3 linked regions of the Homo sapiens genome follow. The protein of the gene in region 1 interacts with the protein of each later gene in a biochemical or structural test. Each region holds a gene or a part of one and is shown in the gene's direction. Other genes may lie near its edges.

Region 1 (6,937 bases):
AGGAACAGAAACTACTCAAACTAGTTTAATCAATAAAAATAGAAGGTAGAGTTATTGGAATGTAGGGATATCTCATAACTCAAGAGCATTAATCCTTAAGAGTTCAAGGTTTTTTTTTTAAAAAAAAAAAAAAAGTAAAAAAGAACCCAAGAGCAGGAGGAGTAAGTACTGCTAGGCTTCTGAGAAACTGGAAAGGCGATCTGGAAAGGAGTCAGAATTCAAATGGTTTATTTATCTTTGACTCTCTCCTTAGTATCTCAATTTCTTTTTCTTTTTCTTTTTTTTTTTTTTTTTGAGACAGAGTCTTGCTCTGTCATCCAGGCTGGAGTGCAGTGGCACGATCTCAGCTCACTGCAACCTCTGCCTCCCAGTTTCATGCGATTCTCCTGCCTTGGCCTCCTGCGTAGCTGGAGGCTAATGTTTGTATTTTTAGTAGAGATGGGGTTTCACCATGTTGGTCAGGCTGGTCTCGAACTCCTGACCTCAGGTGATGCGCCTGCCTCAGCCTCCGAAAGTGCTGGGATTACAGGCTTGAGCCACCACACCCGACATCAATTTCTTAATCTTTCTGCAGATGTGCTTTCTCTGATTGGACATTCACACACATCTATCTGTGTACTTTGCCCCATAAATTCCTGAGGTCAGACTTGAATATAAAGCCAAGTCTAATTTTCCAGGAGCAGGAAAATGATTGGCCAATTTGGGGCCAGATGAACACTGCTGGTACAACTGGTGGCCAGAAAGGTAAAAGTCATGTGACTACAGTCAGCTAGGAGGAGGGCTGTAGGTTTGCAGATGCTCTAAGGGTGTGGGAAGAACCGGAGGCAAAGGTGTGTAACTTTGATATGGAAGAAAGTTCACTATTATCACAGGTAGTATCTATAATCACTAAGTTAGGTTGTTTCTACATCCAGAAAGCTGCCTGAGTCTGTTCTCTCTGTCATTCCTCTAATTCAGAGGACCCCAACGCCCCAACACAGACCTGTCGCCTATTAGGAACTGGGCTGCACAGCAGGTGAGCAGCTAGCAAGCAAGCATTACTGCCTGAGCTCTGCCTCCTGTCAGATCAAGGAGAGCATTAGATTCTCACAGGAACTCAAAACCTATTTTGAACTGCACCTGTGAGGAATCTAGATTGCACACTCCTTATGGAAATCTAATTGATGATCTTGAGGTGCAACAGTTTCATTCCGAAACCATCCTCTGCCTCATGCCCACCCCCCGAGCCCTGTGGAAAATTGTCTTTCACAGAACAGCTCCCTGGTGCCAAAAAGGTAGAACTGGAATCTAATCCAAATCTTCATCTCTTTGTTGAAATATTGCAAGAACTTCCTTTTTGGTGTCTTCACTTTCACGCTCCTGAAATCTGTTCTTCAACGCCACAAGGTAATAGTGTGAGGATTAACTAAAAACTTTGTCAACTTTAAAGCACTCCACAAATATAAAGTAGTAATAAGGCCATTGCAATGGTTCACACCTGTAATTCCAACACTTTGGGAGGCCAAGGTGGGAGGATCACTTGAGGCCAGGAGTTCAAGGCCAACTTGAACAGAGCGAGATGCTGTCTCAAAAATAAAAAAATAAGGCCGGGTGCGGTGGTTCACACCTGTAATCCCAGCACTTTGGGAGGCCACGGTAGGTGGATCACCTGAGGTCAGGAGTTCGAGACCAGCCTGGCCAACATGGTGAAACCCTGTCTCTACTAAAAATACAAAAAATTAGCTGGGCGTGGTGGCAGGCGCCTGTAATCCCAGTTACTTGGGAGGCTGAGGCAGGAAGACTCGCTTGAATCTGGGAGGTGGGGTTGCAGTGAGCTGATACCACGTCCCTGCACTCCAGCCTGGGCAACAGAGCAAGACTCCATCTAAAATAAATAAATAAATAAATAAATAAAAATAAAAATAAATTGGTAAGTGGAGGGAAAATAGATCTAACCAAATGACTTGTCTTCTTAAAAACTTCAATGATTTCTTCAGTACCTAGAGACCAAAGCTCCTTACCTTTTTTTTTTTTTTTGAGACGGAGTCTTGCTCTGTTGCCCAGGCTGGAGTGCAGTGGCGTGATCTCGCTCACTGCAACCTCCACCTCCCGGGTTCAAGCACTTCTCTGCCTCAGCCTCCCAAAGAGCTGGGATTACAGGCATGCACCACCACGCCCGGCTAATTTTTGTAGTTTTAGTAGAGATGGGGTTTTGCCATCTTGGCCAGGCTGGTCTTGAACTCCTGACCTCGTGATCCGCCCACCTTGGCCTCCCAAAGTTCTGGGATTACAGGCTTGAGCCACCGCGCCTGGCCTCTCCTTACATGTTTTGTTGTTGTCGCTTGTCTTTTGAGACAAGGTCTCACTCTGTAGCCCAGGCTGGAGTGCAGTGGCCCATCATAGCTCACTGCAGCCTTGACGTCCTGAGCTCAAGCAGTCCTCCCACCTCAGCCTCCGGGATAGCTGAGACCACAGGCACAAGCCACCACGCCCAGCTTATTTTTTTTTTTTTTTTTTTTGAGATATGGGGTCCCACTATGTTGCCCAGGCTGGTCTCCAACTCCTGAGCTCAAGCGATCCTCCCCCACCTTGGCTTCCCAAAGTGCTGGGATTACAGGTGTGAGCCACCGTGCAGGCCTTATATGATCTTCATATCCTGAACTAAATGTAACCTTCCAGTTTCGGCACTTGCTCTGGCACTTTTCCTCCCTCGCCAGATAATACTAATCTTTAATCATGTAGTTCGTTTCCATGCCCATACTACCCTATTTGCTTATAATGTCTTCCACTTCGCCCAAGAATCCCTACTCAGCTAGCTTGTGGTGTTGTTTTGACACAGTCTCGCTCTGTCGCCCAGGCTGGAGTACAGCGGCGAGATCTCGGTTGGCTGCAACCTCCTCCTGAGTTCAAGCGATTCTCATGCCTCAGCCTTTCGAGTAGCTAGGATTACAGGCATGTGCCACAAAACCTGGCTAATTTTTGTATTTTTTACTAAAGACGAGGTTTCACCACGTTGGCCAGGTTTATCTCCAACCCCTGACCTCAGGTGATCCGCCTGCCTTGGCCTCCTAAACTGCTGGGATTACTGGCGTGAACCACCGCGCCCGGCCCTACTCAGCCTTTAAAACCGGAATCACGGGTCAAAACTTTCTGGTAAACCACGATACGGTTTAGGTTATGAAATTCAATGCCCCCTTCCTCTGAACTCCTGCAAATCTCCAGTAAAGCACCACAGATTGACGAATATTCCAGCCATTTCCCTCTCCCGTACGCTAGCTCCATTTCCCACTTCTATCCATCTTCTCGAGCTTCCTCAGCTCCTCCACCTCCATGAGGCCTGGAAAGCACCTTGCTCCAGGAATGCGAGTAGGAGGCTCAGAGCGACCAGAAGTGCCAAAAGCTGACATTCAGATACTGCCGAAACAAACCACAAGAGCGCTAGGGCCCCCGCTAATAGTCCAGCTGCGATGGTGAGAACTCGCGGACCCGCCGGCGATGCATGCCGGGAGATGTAGTCCCGGGCCGACGCATTACCTCTTGGGAGTCGTGGTCTTCGATCTGGTAAACAGAAGACGGCAACTCGGTTAAGTCTTCCCCCACCGCCCCCTGAAATCCCTCGCCCCACCCGCGAGGGACTGGGGTAGGAGTAGGGGCGTTGCCGTGGTTAGCCTCGAACTCCTAGGCTCAGACGATACTCTCGCCTCGGCCTCCCGAGCAGCTGGGACTACACGCGTGAGCCACCGCCCCCGGCATAAAGTTTGAATTAGTCCTTACGCAAAAAGGGAAGAGGGCAGTCTGTAAACTCGCGCAGGATCAAGCTCTCGAGCTCCCGTCTTGGGTTAGCGCGCAGGGCGGAAGCGGGGAGAAGGCGGATCCGGGAGGCGGGGATACGTTACGTCGACGCGGGCGTGACCCTGGGCGAGAGGGTTTGGCGGGAATTCTGAAAGCCGCTGGCGGACCGCGCGCAGCGGCCAGAGACCGAGCCCTAAGGAGAGTGCGGCGCTTCCCGAGGCGTGCAGCTGGGAACTGCAACTCATCTGGGTTGTGCGCAGAAGGCTGGGGCAAGCGAGTAGAGAAGTGGAGCGTAAGCCAGGGGCGTTGGGGGCCGTGCGGGTCGGGCGCGTGCCACGCCCGCGGGGTGAAGTCGGAGCGCGGGGCCTGCTGGAGAGAGGAGCGCTGCGGACCGAGGTGAGTGTGTGAGGCGCAGGCTGGGCCCTCCAGAGCCGCGGCTCGTCCTCGCCCACCTGCGTCCTGGCCGGTCCAGTGCTCAGCGGCAGTTGGGGCCTCCGCGCGCAGTGTGAAACCCGGACGTGGCAGGGCGTGTCCGCGCCCGACCGACCCTCAGCTGCTGGGGCGAAAACACAAGTGGACCTCAGTCTTTAGAACTAGGGGAGAAACATTAGAGCCTTTATAGGCAACACCTATTTTATGGGTTCGAGCGAGAAGTCCGAGATCAGAGCGGTGTAGCCACAGCTGTTTAATATCACAGCCAGGGCTTCCGGATTCCTGATCTGTCTTTCCATTACACCGTGCTTAGAAAGTACCAATCTCCGATTGCCAAAACAGTGTTTTCATCATCTAATGCGGAAAACCATTCACATGATGCCTAGAGAATGATCTGAAGTGAGGTTTGGTTTTCTTAAAACTTTTTTTTTGAGATGGAGTCTCGCTCTTCCGCCCAGGCTGGAGTGTAGTGGCGCGATCTCGGCTCACTGCAACCTCCGCCTCCCGGATTCAAGCGATTCTCCTACCTCAGCCTCCCGAGGAGCTGGGATTACAGGCCCCCACCACCACGCCGCCAGGCTGATTTTTGTATTTTTAGTAGAGACGGGGTTTCACCATGTTGGTCAGGCTGGTCTCGAACTTCTGACCTCAGGTTATCCACCCGCCTCTGCCTCCCAAAGTGCTGGGATTACAGCCGTGAGCCACAGCGCCTGGCCCCTGTTTTTTTGTTTGTTTGTTTGTTTTTAACTTCTAAAGCGCAATGTAATATACATGTAGAAAAATTCACATTCACAACTGTATACAACTCCGTGAATTATTACAAAATATACTGGCCGGGCGTCGTGTCTCACGTCTGTAGTCCCAGCACTTTGGGAAGTGGAGGCGGGAGGACGATTGAGCCCAAGAGTTCGAGAACAGCCTGGTCAAGATAGTGAGACCCGCATCTCTACAAATAGGAAAAATTAGCTAGGCATGGTGGCGTGCACCTGTAGGCCCAGCTATTCAGGAGGCTGAGAAGGGAGGATCTAGCCTGGGAGGTATAAGCTGCAGTGAGCTGTGATCAGGCCACTGCACTCCAACCTGGGCGATAGAGCAAGACAAAATGAATATACACCTATGTAATCACCACTTAATAGAATGGTCCTCAGAAGCCTTCCTGTGTAGTATTTAATATTTTCCCCTTTTTACAGTGGTAACTGCTATACTGGTTTCTAATGAGATGAACTAATGTTGCTTGTTTTTGAATTTTATATAAAAATACATCAGGAGTGTTGAGTGTTTCGTTGTTTCACATGCTTGCCAACACGATATTTTTCAGCCTTTTTGATTTTAACTATTCTGCTGGTTACACAGTAATGTCTTAATGTGATTTTAATTTTCCTGATTAATAATGATGTTGGACATCTGTTCATATGTTTTTGCCCATTTTGATATCTTCTGTGATGTGCTTGTTCAAATCTCTTGCCTATTTTTCTATTATCTTTTTCTTACTGATGTGAAGTTCTTTATATACTGGTTATCAGCCCTCAGTTATGTTTGTGCTAAATGTTTTCTCTACTGTGGTTTGACTTGTCACTCTCTTAGTGGTGTCCTTTGATGAATAGAAGTGCTGAATTTATTTTTTTATTATTTATTTATTTATTTATTTTTCCTTTTGAGACAGAGTTTGGCTCTTGTTGCCCAGGCTGGAGTGCAATGGCACAATCTTGGCTCACCGCAACCTCCGCCTCCCGGGTTCAAGCGATTCTCCTGCCTCAGCCTCCCGAGTAGCTGGGATTACAGGCATGTGCCACCACGCCCAGCTAATTTTGTATTTTTCTTTAATAGAGACAGGATTTCTCCATGTTGGTCAGGCTGGTCTTGAACTCCTGAACTTAGGTGATCTGCCCGCCTTGGCCTCCCAAAGTGCTGGGATTGCAGACGTGAGCCACAGTGCCCAGTAGAAGTGCTGAATTTAAATGTAGTTCAGTTTTCAGTCTTTTCCTTTTTGGCTAGTGCGTTATGCATCCAGTTTCAAGAAATCTTTTTCTGTCCCAAGGTTGTGAAAATAATAAGTGTTACTTTGTTTTTGACAGACGATTGTACATATTTATGAGATACAAGATGATATTTCTTTTTTTTTTTTTTTTTTTTTGAGACGGAGTCTCACTCTGTCGCCCAGGCTGGAGTGCAGTGGCGCGATCTTGGCTCACTGCAAGCTCCGCCTCCTGGGTTCACGCCATTCTCCTGTCTCAGCCTGCCACCACGCCCAGCTAATTTTTTGTATTTTTTAGTAGAGACAGGGTTTCACCATGTTAGCCAGGATGGTCTCGATCTCCTGACCTGGTGATCCACCCGCCTTGGCCTCCCAAAGTGCTGGGATTACAGGCGTGAGCCACTCCACCTGGCCCAAGATGATATTTCAATACATATATACATTGTATAATGAATGATCAAATCAGGGTAATCAGCATATCCATCAGTTCACTTAAACACTTGTCATTTCTCTTTGTGATGAGAACATTCAAAATACTCGCTTCTGGCTATTTTGAAGTATACATTACATTAGTGTTTACTGTAGTCACCCTACTGTGAAATAGAACCCTAGAACTTATTCCTCCTATCTAACTGAAACTTTGTGCCTGTTGACCAACCTCTCTCCTTCCTGCCGCCCCCTGCAACAGCTGCATTCTCCTCAGTCTCTGGTTACCACTGTTCTATTTGTTCCTTGTATGAGATGAACTTTTTTTTTTTT
Region 2 (7,001 bases), on another chromosome or scaffold:
CCAAGTGGGTATAAGGACATAAAGAAAATGCTACAGATTTTGAAGGTCTGAACATTACTGTATTTACATTAAAAAGAGTTTTCCATGTAACTTTAAAGGGTACATTGTTACATCCTTTGAAAGAGAAGTTAAATGACTAGCTTATTAACACATTTAACTTAGATGACTGACCGATTTCAGTTTTACAGACACCACTTAGAGAATGATATAACGGAAGAGCACTGAGAGAGAAGTTAGGACACCTGTGTTCTGGCTTTGGCTCTATTATTATCACTATGTTCGCGACTTTAGACTGTGGTTCACAATCTTAAGTGTGCATTAGAAACCCCTGGAGGCCTTATTTAAACAGACTGCCACATGCTACCCTAGTTTCTGATTCAGCAGAAATGGGATGCAGCCCGAGAATTTGCATGTCTAACAAGCTTGCAGGTGATGCTGTTGCTGCTAAATGATTAGAAACCATATTTCAAGAACCACTGCCTAGGGTAAATAATTTAACCTCTTTATGTTCCAGTTTCCTTGTTTGTACAATGTGATTGGGCTATAAAGTTTCTAGGTTCTCTTATAACTCTAACCTGTGATCTAACATATTCTGAATTTTAAATTTTTCCTAGACTGTGAGATAGAGCACAGACCTTTAAAAATGGTTTAATACATCTAACTTTATAAAACTAATTTAGGTAAGCAAAGACTATTCAAAAATTAGTACACTTTCTGTTCTATGGCATCTCAGAAATTAATGACCAGATTATTAAAAGGGCAACCAATTTAGCACTATAATTCTATTAGCACAATTAGCGATAGCTAAACTGCCTTATAACTTCACCCAACTAAATTCAGAAGAGCTCCTCTAATTCCAAACTTTGTAGCTAATTTTTCATTATAAAATCTAATTTTTATATTTTATAAACAACTACCACTTATAGGAAAAAACACTCAATAAAAGAAAGCTCTGGAGAAATGTTTTTATTCTTGGAATCAGTTCCTATGTTATGGCTGTTTCCAAAGCTTCTTAGGTTTATGCTTTCTAATATGAAACTTCCAATGACAGACTATTGAAACTAATAAAGTGGTGTTACTTAAAAAAAAAAACAGTCCTCACCTTTTTCTATAAAGCACGGTAAACTGTGCAGCAGCATCAGACGTCCATGCAAATGACTGGCATTCTCTTGAACAGGAAATTTGAGTGGCACTCTCAGTTCTAAGCACTGACTTCCTACTTTAAATTTATATACAAATTCTCTCTCTCTATTGCAGAATCTTTCTCTGTTTTTCTTCATATTCTTTGACAGGATTTCTACAGAACTAACAAAAAAGCAGTAGGTTATAAGTCCATAAAGAAATTATGTTTCATTATTGCTGTCCCATTTCTAAGAAAACATTCCACCATTCAAGAGATTTTGTCTATGAGCCAATTATTCTAGTTTTTCCCAAGTGTTTATCCCTGTACTTCCATCTTCATGATGAAAACAAAGTGCTTCTTTAAAAAAAAAAAAAAAGACACTTTGTTTTAAACTTGATTTAAGAAAAAAAATTATGGCCATAAAGTACTTTATATTCCAAGGCAGGGTTCTCAATAATAGGGAAGGACCATGGAGAGAAGAGCAGAGAGAATTCTTAGGGAGAGTTCATGGGTGGGGAAATACAAAGCTTAAGAAACCGTTGGTAAAAAGAAAGTCAAAGAAGCAGATCAGGGACCAAGGAGTGATCCTGGAGAACTTAGAGGTTGTGGTCATGAGATCCGACTGGGGGAAGGGGAGTAAGAAAGTGTTAGAAAGATTTCCATGTGGGAAGAAGATACACAGAAAAGAGAGAGTACAGGACCTCCACTTCCGGCCCACACCCCAAAGGCAAACTAGACACTACTAAGGAAGAAGAAAATCTAGTTAAAGGCAGTAAGAATCAACATCAATTAAAGATTTATTTATTCATCAGCCTTGTAACTGGACTTCCTATGGCTAGGCTTTCTCCCATCAAATCAGTTCTTACATTATTTTCTACACTGAAGTTATAGTAATCTTCCTTTTTAAAAAAGGAATATACTTATCTGATCATGTTGTTCATCCGCTTAAAAACTTTCTATGACATTCCATTGCTCTCAGGATAAAATGCAAACTCTTTATCCCAGTTTACAACACCCCTGCTTATATTTCCACTCTTCTCTCAGAAACTGCACCTCTCCTTCCTAATACACAAATTCACAAATTTTATTTTCCAGCCATTCTGAACTTCTGTCAACACCAAACTTCTCCTTCCATGCCGAATCTTTTTGAATGCCTTTTCCTTTGCCTAGAGCACTCTTACTGATCTTAATTTCATTGGATAACAATTGCTAATTCTTCAGGTCTCAGTTAAGCCTCTAGGAAGACTTATCCAACTCCCTAAAACTGGATTGGGTCCCGACAGGCTCTCATATTAGCCTAGACTTATTTGAATCATGGCACTTATCACGCTCTATTTCTTACTCTTGGCTAGAAAACAGTCTTCTTGAAGTGGAAGGAATACTGTCTTGTATTCCATGTATTAGGCAGGATGTTGCGAATGGCAAGAACTAATAAATAATTGTTGGATTGTATGGCGTTTTTATTTTATGGTGCTCACTGGAAAAATAAAGAACAAAAAATTATTCATACGGTTATTTAAAAAGATATCACCTGAAATATAAAAAAAACTCAAAGGACTTTTGTACATGTCGTGGGGCGGGGCTAAGTTGAATTATCCAGACTATATTTTCAAATCTGTATGTAGGCTATACACAAAAATCTTCGTCTATTTCACCATAATGCAAAGAGATAGGGTATTTGTTTTACTCAGAAAGAATTAAAATTAAACGTAAAGCAATACAAATTTTTATAATGTTAGAAAACTACCAAAACTACATAAAGGTATATTCTATGATGTAGAAATTTCATTCCTAAGTATATATCCAAATACACACACACGCATATGTTCGCTAAAGTACACCCAGAAGAATGCTCATATAAGTTTTATTTATAATACCCCAAACTGGAAACAACCAAAATGCGTATTAGTAGGAGAATAGTAAACTTGTTTATTTTATGAGATAAATACTACACAGCAATAAAAAAGAATCAACCACTGATAAATGCAAAAATATGAATGAATCAGGAATGTTGAAAAAAAAAAGAGAAGGCAGACACAAAAGCTCTGGTTCAACATTTAGACTTGTGTTTCAAGAAACTGATAACTTTAGTTCTTTCTCCTCTCGCTCTTTTTTTAGACTAATGGTCTATCCTGAAGCCTGGGTTCAGTTTTAGCAACCGTGAAATCCAGGAAGGTTTCCCATAAGAAAATGGGATGGAAGGTCTGGACCGAACACACACAGCCAACAGAGCGGAGGCTCTGAGGCTCACATTAATCAGGGAAAAGGAAGACAGACGGTCGAGCTGAGAAACTTCAGCCGGGTGAGGGGACTAATCCCTCTGTAACGGTTGTCAGTCTGAAAGGGCATCCTCACTCGGTTCTGGGCTCACCTCGTCTAGTTCCGAAGTCCTGGGCAGTCCGCTCACTCGAGCTGTCAGCGCGTCCTGCACTGGGAAACCAGCTGACTTGCCGACATACTTTTTCCACACCGCGGATCCGCGAACGTAGATTCGCCACATCCTTTTCTATTTCCTGGCATCTTGTAGAAAATTTCTCAGTCCAAGTGCCCCTATGTCCCAACCTGTTTCAATTTAACAATTTGAAAGGTGCAATAAGGTGTATTTCTATTGTTATTCTGTATTTCAGAGACAGGGCAAATCCGCCGTTGTGACGAAAGTGCAGGGACAAAGCACAAACTCGGCTCTGGTGGACCGGATACGGAAAAGCGGTGCCTTGGGGAGGGCGGGAGCAAATTCGCTTTCCCCACAGCGCGTGCGCCGCCGCAAGCATGGCTGGTGATGATTGGACGACTGGTAACAGGGGGCGGAGGGCTCCGAAGTCTGGTTTTGGGCGGGAATTGAAACCGCCGCTGAAGCCAACAAGAATTTGAGAACTGTAAATACCAAGCCTTGAAAGGGACCATGGTGCGGCCTGTGAGGTGGGTAGTTCCTGACATTCGTCGGGGGTGGGAGGAAAACTAAGGGAAAAGACATGAGACTAAGGGGAAAGGATCGAGTAAGACCGGAGGGCAGCGATGGTGGGGTTAGGATGGACGGTTATCAAGAACCCAGTCTCCAGTGAGAGCCACCCGTTGCTCAGAAGTATCCTAGCATCGTAGCTTTTTCCTTCTCTTTGCCTCCCTTCACAACCGTCGCCGTTTCTTTTACCAAGACCTTGTTAGCGTTTGAACAGCGCTTTACATTTCACCGAGCGCCCAATTATGTGTTATTTTATTTGTTTATCACTGTAGTTATTTGATATAGAAAGAGTAAGCATTCCTGTTGTATTGATTTAACATTTCTACGTATAGAGGGTAAGTTATCTGAGTCATACAGCCCAGTAAGTGGCAGGGCAATACTCAAACCTAAGTCATCTCACTCAAGATCCTCTGTGCTTTCCATCGTGGTATTAGAAACGATTCTTCTATTTACACAGTTGAGTGCCATGGAAGCCTATAGTTAGCCATTCATTTAATAAAGTTATTGAATATATTCACTTCTTTAGTGTACGAGGTGCTGGAGGTTACATTCCAGTGGGAGGTGAGGTTAGGGGGCCGAAAATAAGCCTCGAAATATGAGAGTGCGAAAGAGGAAAGCACTACTTTAAATATAGTAGTTAATATGTGACTCTGAGGCGATAATGCATGCACTGAGTCATGAATCAGGGTAGAGGGAATAGGAGCCAAGGCCCCATACTTGACCATATTTTAGGGACAGTCTAATGCTATAGGATTAACAAGCAGTGGGGAGAATCGTAGGGGGATTAGGCCAGAGAAATAGGCAGGTGCCAGAACAGATAGGGTCTTGTAAGTCTTAGAAAGGAGTTTAGGTTTTATTTTAAGTCAATGGGAAGTCAGTGGAGGGTTTTAAGTAGGGGAGAGGAATCTAAGTTTGCTTTTATAAAGGTCACTGGCTGTTGGTGGAGAATAAATGATGGATAGGGTGACCAGAACGGGAGCAGGAAAATCAGGTATTATATCATTGGAGAGCGGTTTGGGATAGGGTATTATTAGTGGGCATGGAATGGAACAGATGAATTTGGGATGTATTTCGGAGGCACTGTGGACAGAACTTGCTGATGAAGTAGATGTACAGGTAAGGGAAAGAAAGAATCAGAGATGACTCCACAATAGTTTTGGTCTGAGCTACAGGATGGATGATCTTTGTATTAAGATAGGGAAGACTAGGAAAAGGAAGGTTAGGAGGTGTGAGGGATCAAGATTTCTGTTTCGAACATGCTGAATTTGAAATGGGTTTTAAGCATCCAGGCAGTGGAGTCATAATCCCTTTGTAAGGAACAGCAGTTGTTAAAGTATGGTCTACAGACCTCTGTGGGTCCCTGGAAACTTCTCTAGAGGTCTATGAGGTCAAAACTCCTTTCATAACAATACTAAGATATGATTTGCCTTTTTCGCTGCTTTGTCATTTGCACTGCAGTGACCCCGATAAAACTGCTGGCACCTCAGAACAATTAAGGCAGTGGCACTAAATTGTACTACTAGTCTTTGCAATGTTTACTGCCATACTCTTAAAAGTAAAAAAAAAAAAAAAAATCATTTCAGTTAAGAATATGCTTGATGAAGTAGTGGAAATTATTATATTCATCATAGCTTAACCCTTAAGTATACTAATTAAAAATAGGCTATTGATTTTATTTTACTATTATTCAAGTTCAGAATTTATAAAGGGGTTTTCACATTTTATTCAGCTCTAACTTCTTTAACTCTGAAGAGTAAGAGAGTAATATGAGTGCACTTTTTAATAGTTTGCGTGAGGAAACAGGAAGTACACATAAAGCACTTCTGTATACTGATGCGTGATAGTTATCTCAAGGAAAAGCACTTGTGAGATTGTCTGAGTTGTGAGCTGAGCTTACTACCTCTTTTTCATAGAACATTCTTTTTACTTGAAAGAACAACCAGCTGACAAATTAGGTTATTCACATTTAGCCATTTGACAAAAATATAGAAATAAAAACTAGAAAAACATTTTATTTAGTGCCTAGAGGAGGGAGGAAAAAATTATTTTTTTCACTTTGAATATCATTTTCTTCTAATGCCCTCTGAAGTAGTACAAGTTGAGCATCCCAAATTTGAAATGCTCCAAAATTTGAAACTTTTGCAGTACCTACATGGCACTCAAAGGAAATGTTCATTGGAGCACTTCAGATTTTAGATTTTCAGATTTGGGATGCTCAGCTGGTAAGTATATAATGCAGATATTCCAAAATCTGAAAAAATCCAAAATTCAAAACATTTCTGGTTCCAAGCATTTCAGATAAGGGATACTCATCTCAGGTGGTAGGAACAAGGTCACTCACCATTTTTAAGTGTCCGTTGCATAAAAATGTTATTTGGTATGGTGGAGAGATTGAAAAGAAAGTAGCTTTTAGTGTCAAGAAATTTATAATCTAGTAAGGAAGATAGAATGCACACACAAAACAGAAGAACACGTACAACGGGAACTTACAAATGCCCAACAGCAATTAAACAGTATAGCAATTATAAATGTTAATTATGTAGATTATTCTTTGTAAGTTACCTGAATTTTTTTCCTTTATCATATAATTGAAAAGCCAACAATACCCAGGTATATCAGGTATAGTTGTAACTATTTTAGCTAATGATAAATCCCCGCGGTAAAATGCAAATCATGTTTTAGAGTTAAATATTCTTACTTGAACCCAAACACATTTTCATTTATTGAAACACATTTCATTTAACACATTTTTATTTATTTCGTTTATTCATTATTTATTAATAAATGAATAATATTAAATAAATAAATAATATTCATTAATAGCCTTAAGTAATAGTGGTGAGAAATTGACATTTGTGTTAATGAAAAAATTCTGTTTTGGTCATAGACATAAGAAACCAGTCAATTACTCACAGTTTG
Region 3 (7,067 bases), on another chromosome or scaffold:
GAAATCACATTGTGTTAGTTTCCTAAAGCCATTGTAACAAATTACCACAACTGGGTGGCTTAAAACATCAGAAATTTAGCTTCTCTCAGTTCTTGAGGCTCTAAGTCCCAGATTAAAGAACTTGGCACGGCCATGTTATGAAGTAAATAATACTACAGTGGATATGTTCATGTATGTCCCTTCGTAAATTGTATGAGGACTTTTTGTACACAGGAGTGGAATCACTGGGTCGTAGACATACACTTTATTTGACTAAGTAATGACAGCTTGCTCTCACAGCAGGGGAGGATACTTCCTTGCCTCTTCCAGTTTCCGGTGGCCTCATGTTCTTTGGCTTCTGGCATAATGACTGCAATCTCTGCCTCCATCTTCAGAGGGCTGCCTTCCTTCTGTCTTTGTCTCTGTTTTCTTATTTTTATTTTTATTTTTTTTGAGACTGAGTCTCACTCTGTCGCTCAGGCTGGAGTGCAATGGCACAATCTTGGCTCACTGCAACCTCCACTTCCGGGTTCAAACAATTCTCTTGCCTCAGCCTCCCGAGTAGCTGAGATTAAAGGTATGTGCCACCATCCCCAGCTAATGTTTGTATTTTTAGTAAAGACGGGGTTTCAACATGCTGGCCAGGGTGGTCTCAAACTCCTGACCTCAAGTGATCCGCCCCCCTCCCAAAGTGCTGGGATTACAGGTGTGAGCCACCTGGCCCGGGCGTCTCCCTTCCCTCCCTCCCCCTCCCCTCCCCCTCTCCCCCCTCCCCTCCCTTCCCCTTCCCCTTTTCCCTTCCCCCTTCCCCTCCCCTCCCCTCCCCTTCCCCTCCCTTCCCTTCTCTTCCGTTCCCTTTCTTTTGAGACAGAGTTTTGTTCTTGTCGCCCAGGCTCAAGTGCAATGACTATATCTCGGCTCACTGCAAACTCCACCTTCCAGGTTCAAGCAATTCTCCTGCCTCAGCCTCCCAAGTAGCTGGGATTACAGGCACCCACCACCATGCCCAGCTAATTTTTGTATTTTTAGTAGAGACGGGGTTTTACCGTGTTGGCCAGGCTGATCTCGAACTGGCCAGGCTGGTCAAGGCGATCCTCTCGTCTTGACCTCCCAAAGTGTTGGGAGGTGTGAGGCACCGAACCCAGCCTGTTTTCTTATAACAGCAATTATATTGAAGAGGGTCTATCCTGAATTGAGTATGACCTCATCCTACTTGATTACATCTACAAAGACCCCTCTCTAATTAAGGTCACATTCACAAGTACTGGAGGTTATAATTTCTACCTGTCTTTTTGAGGAACACAATTCAACCCACAACAAAGAATAGCAGGAACTATTTTTAAAATGTAGTTTTTAGAGCTGAGCATGGTGGTGAGCACCTGTAGTCCCAGCTACTCAGGAGGCTGAGGCAGGAGGATTGCTTGAGCCCTGGAGTTTAAGACAAGCCTGAGAAACATAGTAAGAACCCCTCTCTAAAAAAAATTTTTTTAATTAGCCAGGCATAGTGTCATGCACCTGCAGTTCCAGCACTTTGGGAGGCCAAGGTGGGAGAATTGCTTGAGGCTAGGAGTTCAAGACCAGCCTGAGCAACATAGCAAGACCCTGCCTCCACCAAAAAAATGTTTTTTTACTTAGCTGGGCATGTAGCCTCTGTAATCCTAGCTACTTAGGAGACTGAAGCAGGAGGATCACTTGAGCCCAGGCATTTGAGGTTATAGCGAGCTATGACCGTGCCACTGCACCATAGCCTGGGCAGCAGAGTGAGGTGCTGTCTCTTAGAAAAAAAAGTTTTTCATAAAAAAAAAGAAAACAATATAATATATACAATAACATGCAGGTAGGTAACTTTAAAATACATTTACCCCAAAAATTATGTTTCAGAATTTATAAAATTCAGCTAAAGGAGTTCTTAGAGGAAAATTTATAGTTTAATAGTTTAAATGCCTTTACTTAAAACAAAAAAAGGTTAAAATCATAAGAAACAAAAAGAAAGAAAAGTAAAGTAAACCTAAAGTGAGCAGAAGAAAGGAAGTGATGAAGATAACAATGAAAATCAGTGAAACAAACAAATGGAAAAACAATTGTAGTAATTAATAAAACCATGAGCTGGTTCTTTGAAAAGACAGGTAAAATTAATAAACATCTAGCTGGACTAGTGAAAAAAGGAGAGGACACAAATTACCAAAATCAGAAATGAAAGGACACAACAAAGAAAACAACAGAGTGAGAGAAAATATTTGCAAACCATATATCCAATAAGGGGTTACTATCCTATTCTAAATATGTGAAGAAAGCAAACAACTCATAGCAAAATCAGATCACACGACTAAAAAGGGGGCAAAGGGCACCAGGTGCACTGGTTTACACCTGTAATCCCAGTGCTTTGGAAGGCTGAGACAGGAGAATTGCTTGAGGCCAGGAGTTGTGAAAAGCCTGGACAACATAGAAAGACCTTGTCTCTACAAAAAAATTTTAGATTAGCCAGGTGTGGTGACATATGCTTGTAGTCCCAGCTACCTGGGAAGCTGAGGTGGGAGGATCACTTGAGCCCAGGAGTTAGAGGTTGCAGTGAGCCATGATTGCAGCACTGCAGTACAGTCTGGGCAACAGCTTGATAGCTTGAGACCCTGACTCTTTAAAAAAAAAATCATTTATCAAAAGATGACATACAAATGATCAACAGGTTCATAAAAATGCTCAATATTGGCTGGGCACAGTGGCTCACACCTGTAATCCCAGCACTTTGGGAGGCTGAGGTGAGCAGATCACCTGAGGTTGGGAGTTCGAGACCAGCCTGACCAACATGGAGAAACCCTGTCTCTACTAAAAATTCCCCAGAGGCTGGGGAATAAGGGGCTGGGGGAGATAATGGGGAGATGAAGATGTTGGTCTCAGGGTACAAAGTTAACAGTTAAACAGGAGGAATACAATTTTGAGATTTATTGCACAGCATAGTGACTATAGTTAATAATAATTTATTGTATATTTCAAAATTTCTAAGAGAGTAAGTTGAAAATATCTCGCCACAAAAAGAATGATAAGTGGGCTAGGTGCAGTGGCTCATACCTGTAATCCTAGCACTTTGGGAGGCTGAGGCAAGAGGATCACTTGAGGCGAGGAGTTCAAGACCAGCCTGGGCAACATAGCAAGACCCTGTCGCTACAAAAACTTTTTTTTTTTTTTTTGAGACGGAGCCTCGCTCTGTCGCCCAGGCTGGAGTGCAGTGGGGCGATCTCGGCTCACTGCAGGCTCCGTCCCCCGGGGTTCACGCCATTCTCCTACCTCAGCCTCCCGAGTAGCTGGGACTACAGGCGCCCGCCACCACGCCCGGCTAATTTTTTGTATTTTTAGTAGAGACAGGGTTTCGCCATGTTGCCCAGGCTGGTCTCGAACTCCTGACCTCGTGATCAGCCCGCCTCGGCGTCCCAAAGTGGTGGGATTACAGGCCTGAGCCACCACGCCCGGCCCCAGGGGACATTCTAGAGGGGACTTCGCCCCCCAAGCCGCACTTCTCCATTTCCCTGCGGTCGTCGCTAACCGAAGGCGCCATCCGGTGACGACTGGATGTGCGCGGCGGTGGTGAGAGGCCGCGAGAACCACCAGGTCCACCGCTGCCTCGGCCCGGGCGGAATCTGGGAAGGTCTCTGACAACCATTCATCCTCAGATTTTCCCAATTGTGCATGGGTGGGCGGGCCCCGCATCCTAATGGGCACTGGGCATGTGAAGTGTGAACCACCCGGGCCTAACTAGCCGCTGAAGGCCTGACGAAACCGCCAGGCCCACCAGGGGGCAGCAGAGATCCGACGGCCGCGGACCGAGGGAAGCTGGCGGGAAGTAGGAGGCAGAGGGCGCGCAGGGAAGCGGCAGGGCGAGCGGCTCAGAACGTAAAAGCCAGCACCGCGCCTCCAGGTTGCTTTACGGCTGCCGCAGAAGGCTTTGCGGCTCTTTTCCCCTCCGACTTGATTTACGGTTCCTTCTCTGGTCTGTGTTTTTTTTTTTCCCCCTCCGGCGCTGGGCGTGGGTTCGGACCTTCTTCCCAGAGACGCTCGCGCACCCTTCCCATTCTCCTCTGCGCGGCCTCCATCTAAGATCTCTTCCCCTTGTCCATAGCCTAGATCGAGCTCCCTGTGTGCACCGCGCGCTGCCCGAGGCGCGTAAGTGGGGGAGGAGAGCGGCTTCCCCCGGGGTGGTTCTAGCCGTGGGTGTGGAGCGTGGGAAGGCTCAGCTTCCGGGTCGAGAACCTGGGGCTGCGGTGGACCTGATCCTGAGGTCTCAGCGTAGAGATGCTGAGTCCAGAGGCCTGTTCTAGTTCACCAGTGCAGTGAGGGGCTCAGTATCCGGGCCTCCCGAGAGGTGGGTAGGAAGGCGGGGTACAGGAAACTTGGCACCAACGCGCCGGGACCCCACCGCGGTGCGGACAGCCAGGTGTCCGTGGTGGCGCTTCCTTGGAGATGCTGCCTGCAGACAGGCGTGGGGAATCTGAAGTTTGTGTTAATAGCTAAACGAAGTTGAGTTGCAGGGAGCGGGGGACGCTGGGAAGAAATGATTGATTTAAAAGGAATTTGACGCCGGGCATGGTGGCGGCATGCCCCCATGTTCCCTGGAGGTCAAGCCTGCAGTGAGCCGAGATCGCACCCGTACCACGACACTCCGTCCCGGGCGACAGAGCGAGACCCTGTCACGGGGGAAAAAATAAAAATAAAAATTTGACGCTCACTTTAGCTGAGTATTGAGCCTTGTTATAACATTGAGATAGAGGTCTGGCGCGGCGTCTCACACCTGTAATCCCAGAACTTTGGAAGGCCGATGCGGGAGGATCGCTTGAGGCCAGGAGTTCTACGCCAGCCTGGCTAACATAGCGAAACCCCGTCTCTACTAAAAATACAAAACTAGGCAGGCCTGGTGGCGGGCGCCTGTAATCCCCGCTACTCGGGAGGCGGAGGCATGAGAATCGCTTGAACCCAGTAGGCAGGTGTGCCGGTAAGCCGACATCGCACCACTGCACTCCAGCCTGGGGGACAGAGCGAGAATCCATCCAAAAAAAAAAAAGTTATAATTCACGTACAATTAAATTCACTCCCTTTTTTAAAAAAAAGTGGAGACATAGTCTCGCTCTGTTGCCCAGGCTGGAGTACAGTGGCGCCGTCTCGGCTCACTGCAACGTCCGCCTCCTGGGTTCAAGCGATTCTTTGCTTCAGCCTCTCAAGTAGCTGGAATTACAGGCGCATACCACCACACCCAGCTACTTTGTATTTTTCACCATGTTGGTTAGGCTGGTCTCGAACTCCTCGCCCTTCCAAAGTTCAGGGATTACAGGTGTGAGCCACCACACCCAGTCTAAATTCACCCTTTTAAAGTGTGCAATTCAGTGGTTTTAATATATTCACAAGGTTGTGCAATCACCACTATTATCTAATTCCAGAACATTTTTATCATCCCTAAAAGAAACCTTAAAACCATTAGCAGACACCCATTATTTCCTCCTACTCCCAGCAGCACTAATCTATGAATTTACCCATTCTCAGTACTGTATTATACAATATTTGTTCTTTTGTGTTTGGTTTATTTCACTTCATGATTCAAAGTCCATCTATGTTGTATGTAGCATGTATCAACTTCATTTTTTAAATAACTGAATTATTTATTGTGTGGATATACCACATTTTGTTTCTCCATTTTTGATGGATACTGGTGATTTTCTAGGCTTTCTAGGTCTAGTCCTCCACAGAACTCGCAGTCTGAGGCACAGACATTTAAAACTTAAGTTTTTGGAAACTAGCATTTAACTCTTGGGTTGGGTCAGGTAATTCAGTGGCCTCAGGTCTGGTATCGTTTAGGGCAGTTTTTTTTTTGTTTTTTTTTTTTTTTTGAGATGAAGTTTCACTCTTGTTGCCCAGGGTGGAGTGCAATGGCGTATCTGGGCTCACTGCAACCTCACCTCCTGGGTTCAAGCGCTTCTCCTATCTCAGCCTCCTCGGTAACTGGGCTTACAGGCGCATGCCACTATGCCCGGCTAATTTTTGGTATTTTTAGTAGAGACAGGGTTTCACCATGTTGGCCATGCTGGTCTCGAACTCCTGACCTCAGGTGATCCACCCATCTCGGCCTCCCAAAGTGCTGGGATTACAGGTGTGAGCCACCGCGCCTGGGTGGGAGTTTTGTTTTTTTGTTTGTCTGTTGTTTTTTGGGGGGACAGAGTTTCTCTCAGCCTCCTCGGTAACTGGGCTTACAGGCGCATGCCACTATGCCAGGCTAATTTTTGGTATTTTTAGTAGAGACAGGGTTTCACCGTGTTGGCAATGCTGGTCTCAAACTCCTGACCTCAGGTGATCCACCCGCCTCGGCCTCCCAAAGTGCTGGGATTACAGGTGTGAGCCACCACACCTGGGCGGGAGTTTTGTTTTTTTGTTTGTCTGTTGTTTTTTTGGGGGGACAGAGTTTCGCTCTTGTTGCCCAGGCTGGACTGCAGTGGCGAGATCTTGACTCACTGCCACTTCTGCCTCCTGGATTCAAGCGATTCTCCTGCCTCAGCCTCCCGAGTAGCTGGGATTACAGGTGTGCACCACCACACCCGGCTAATTTTGTATTTTTAGTAGAGAAGGGGTTTCTCCATGTTGGTTACGCTGGTCTCGAACTCCCTACCTCAGGTGATCCTCCCGCCTTGGCCTCCCAAAGTGTTGGGATTACAGGCGTGAGCCACTGCGCCCCTCTGGGAGTGTTTTTTAAAGTGTTCTATTCTCAGTTCACCACTTACCAGGCCGTTAATTATCGTGGTATCAAGCAGAGAAATGTTTGTGTGCTGGTCTTCTCAGGGAGGCAGAAACCGTCAGAGATTGCTGTTGTGTAATGTACACCAAAACGTGTTATCTTGTAGTATAAACGGTGTAGTTGGAGATGAGTGTATGAAAAATGTAACTGAGCTAGCTGTGGGAGAGACTAGTTGTGAAAAATTTTGAGTCACCCACTGTATGCTTTCCCAGCTATGTTCAAATAAGGTGACACTCTGCCTTCCTGTTTCAGCTCTAAAACTGTTCATAAGTGTTATTTTGGCTGTATACGTAGTGCCATGTTTTTTTGTATTTTTGTG

What was found.
Region 2: the proteins of RAD51 (region 1) and RAD51AP1 form a complex in vitro, tested with the Homo sapiens proteins (6 studies listed by BioGRID and IntAct).
Region 3: the proteins of RAD51 (region 1) and RAD52 form a complex in vitro, tested with the Homo sapiens proteins (6 studies listed by BioGRID).

Annotation. Positions count from the first base shown.
Region 1 is NC_000015.10:40,691,259-40,698,195, forward strand, and holds the start of RAD51 (DNA repair protein RAD51 homolog 1), read left to right. Parts: upstream 1-3,915; 5' UTR 3,916-4,167; intron 4,168-4,273; exon of another isoform or gene 4,274-4,368; intron 4,369-4,375; exon of another isoform or gene 4,376-4,607; intron 4,608-6,937.
Region 2 is NC_000012.12:4,534,915-4,541,915, forward strand, and holds the start of RAD51AP1 (RAD51-associated protein 1), read left to right. Parts: upstream 1-3,975; 5' UTR 3,976-4,025; coding exon 4,026-4,042; intron 4,043-6,969; coding exon 6,970-7,001. Other genes in the region: FERRY3 (ferry endosomal RAB5 effector complex subunit 3), read right to left, coding at 1,103-1,280. UniProt on the Homo sapiens protein: Structure-specific DNA-binding protein involved in DNA repair by promoting RAD51-mediated homologous recombination.
Region 3 is NC_000012.12:946,669-953,735, reverse strand, and holds the start of RAD52 (DNA repair protein RAD52 homolog), read left to right. Parts: upstream 1-4,041; 5' UTR 4,042-4,134; exon of another isoform or gene 4,135-4,333; intron 4,334-7,067. UniProt on the Homo sapiens protein: Involved in double-stranded break repair. Plays a central role in genetic recombination and DNA repair by promoting the annealing of complementary single-stranded DNA and by stimulation of the RAD51 recombinase.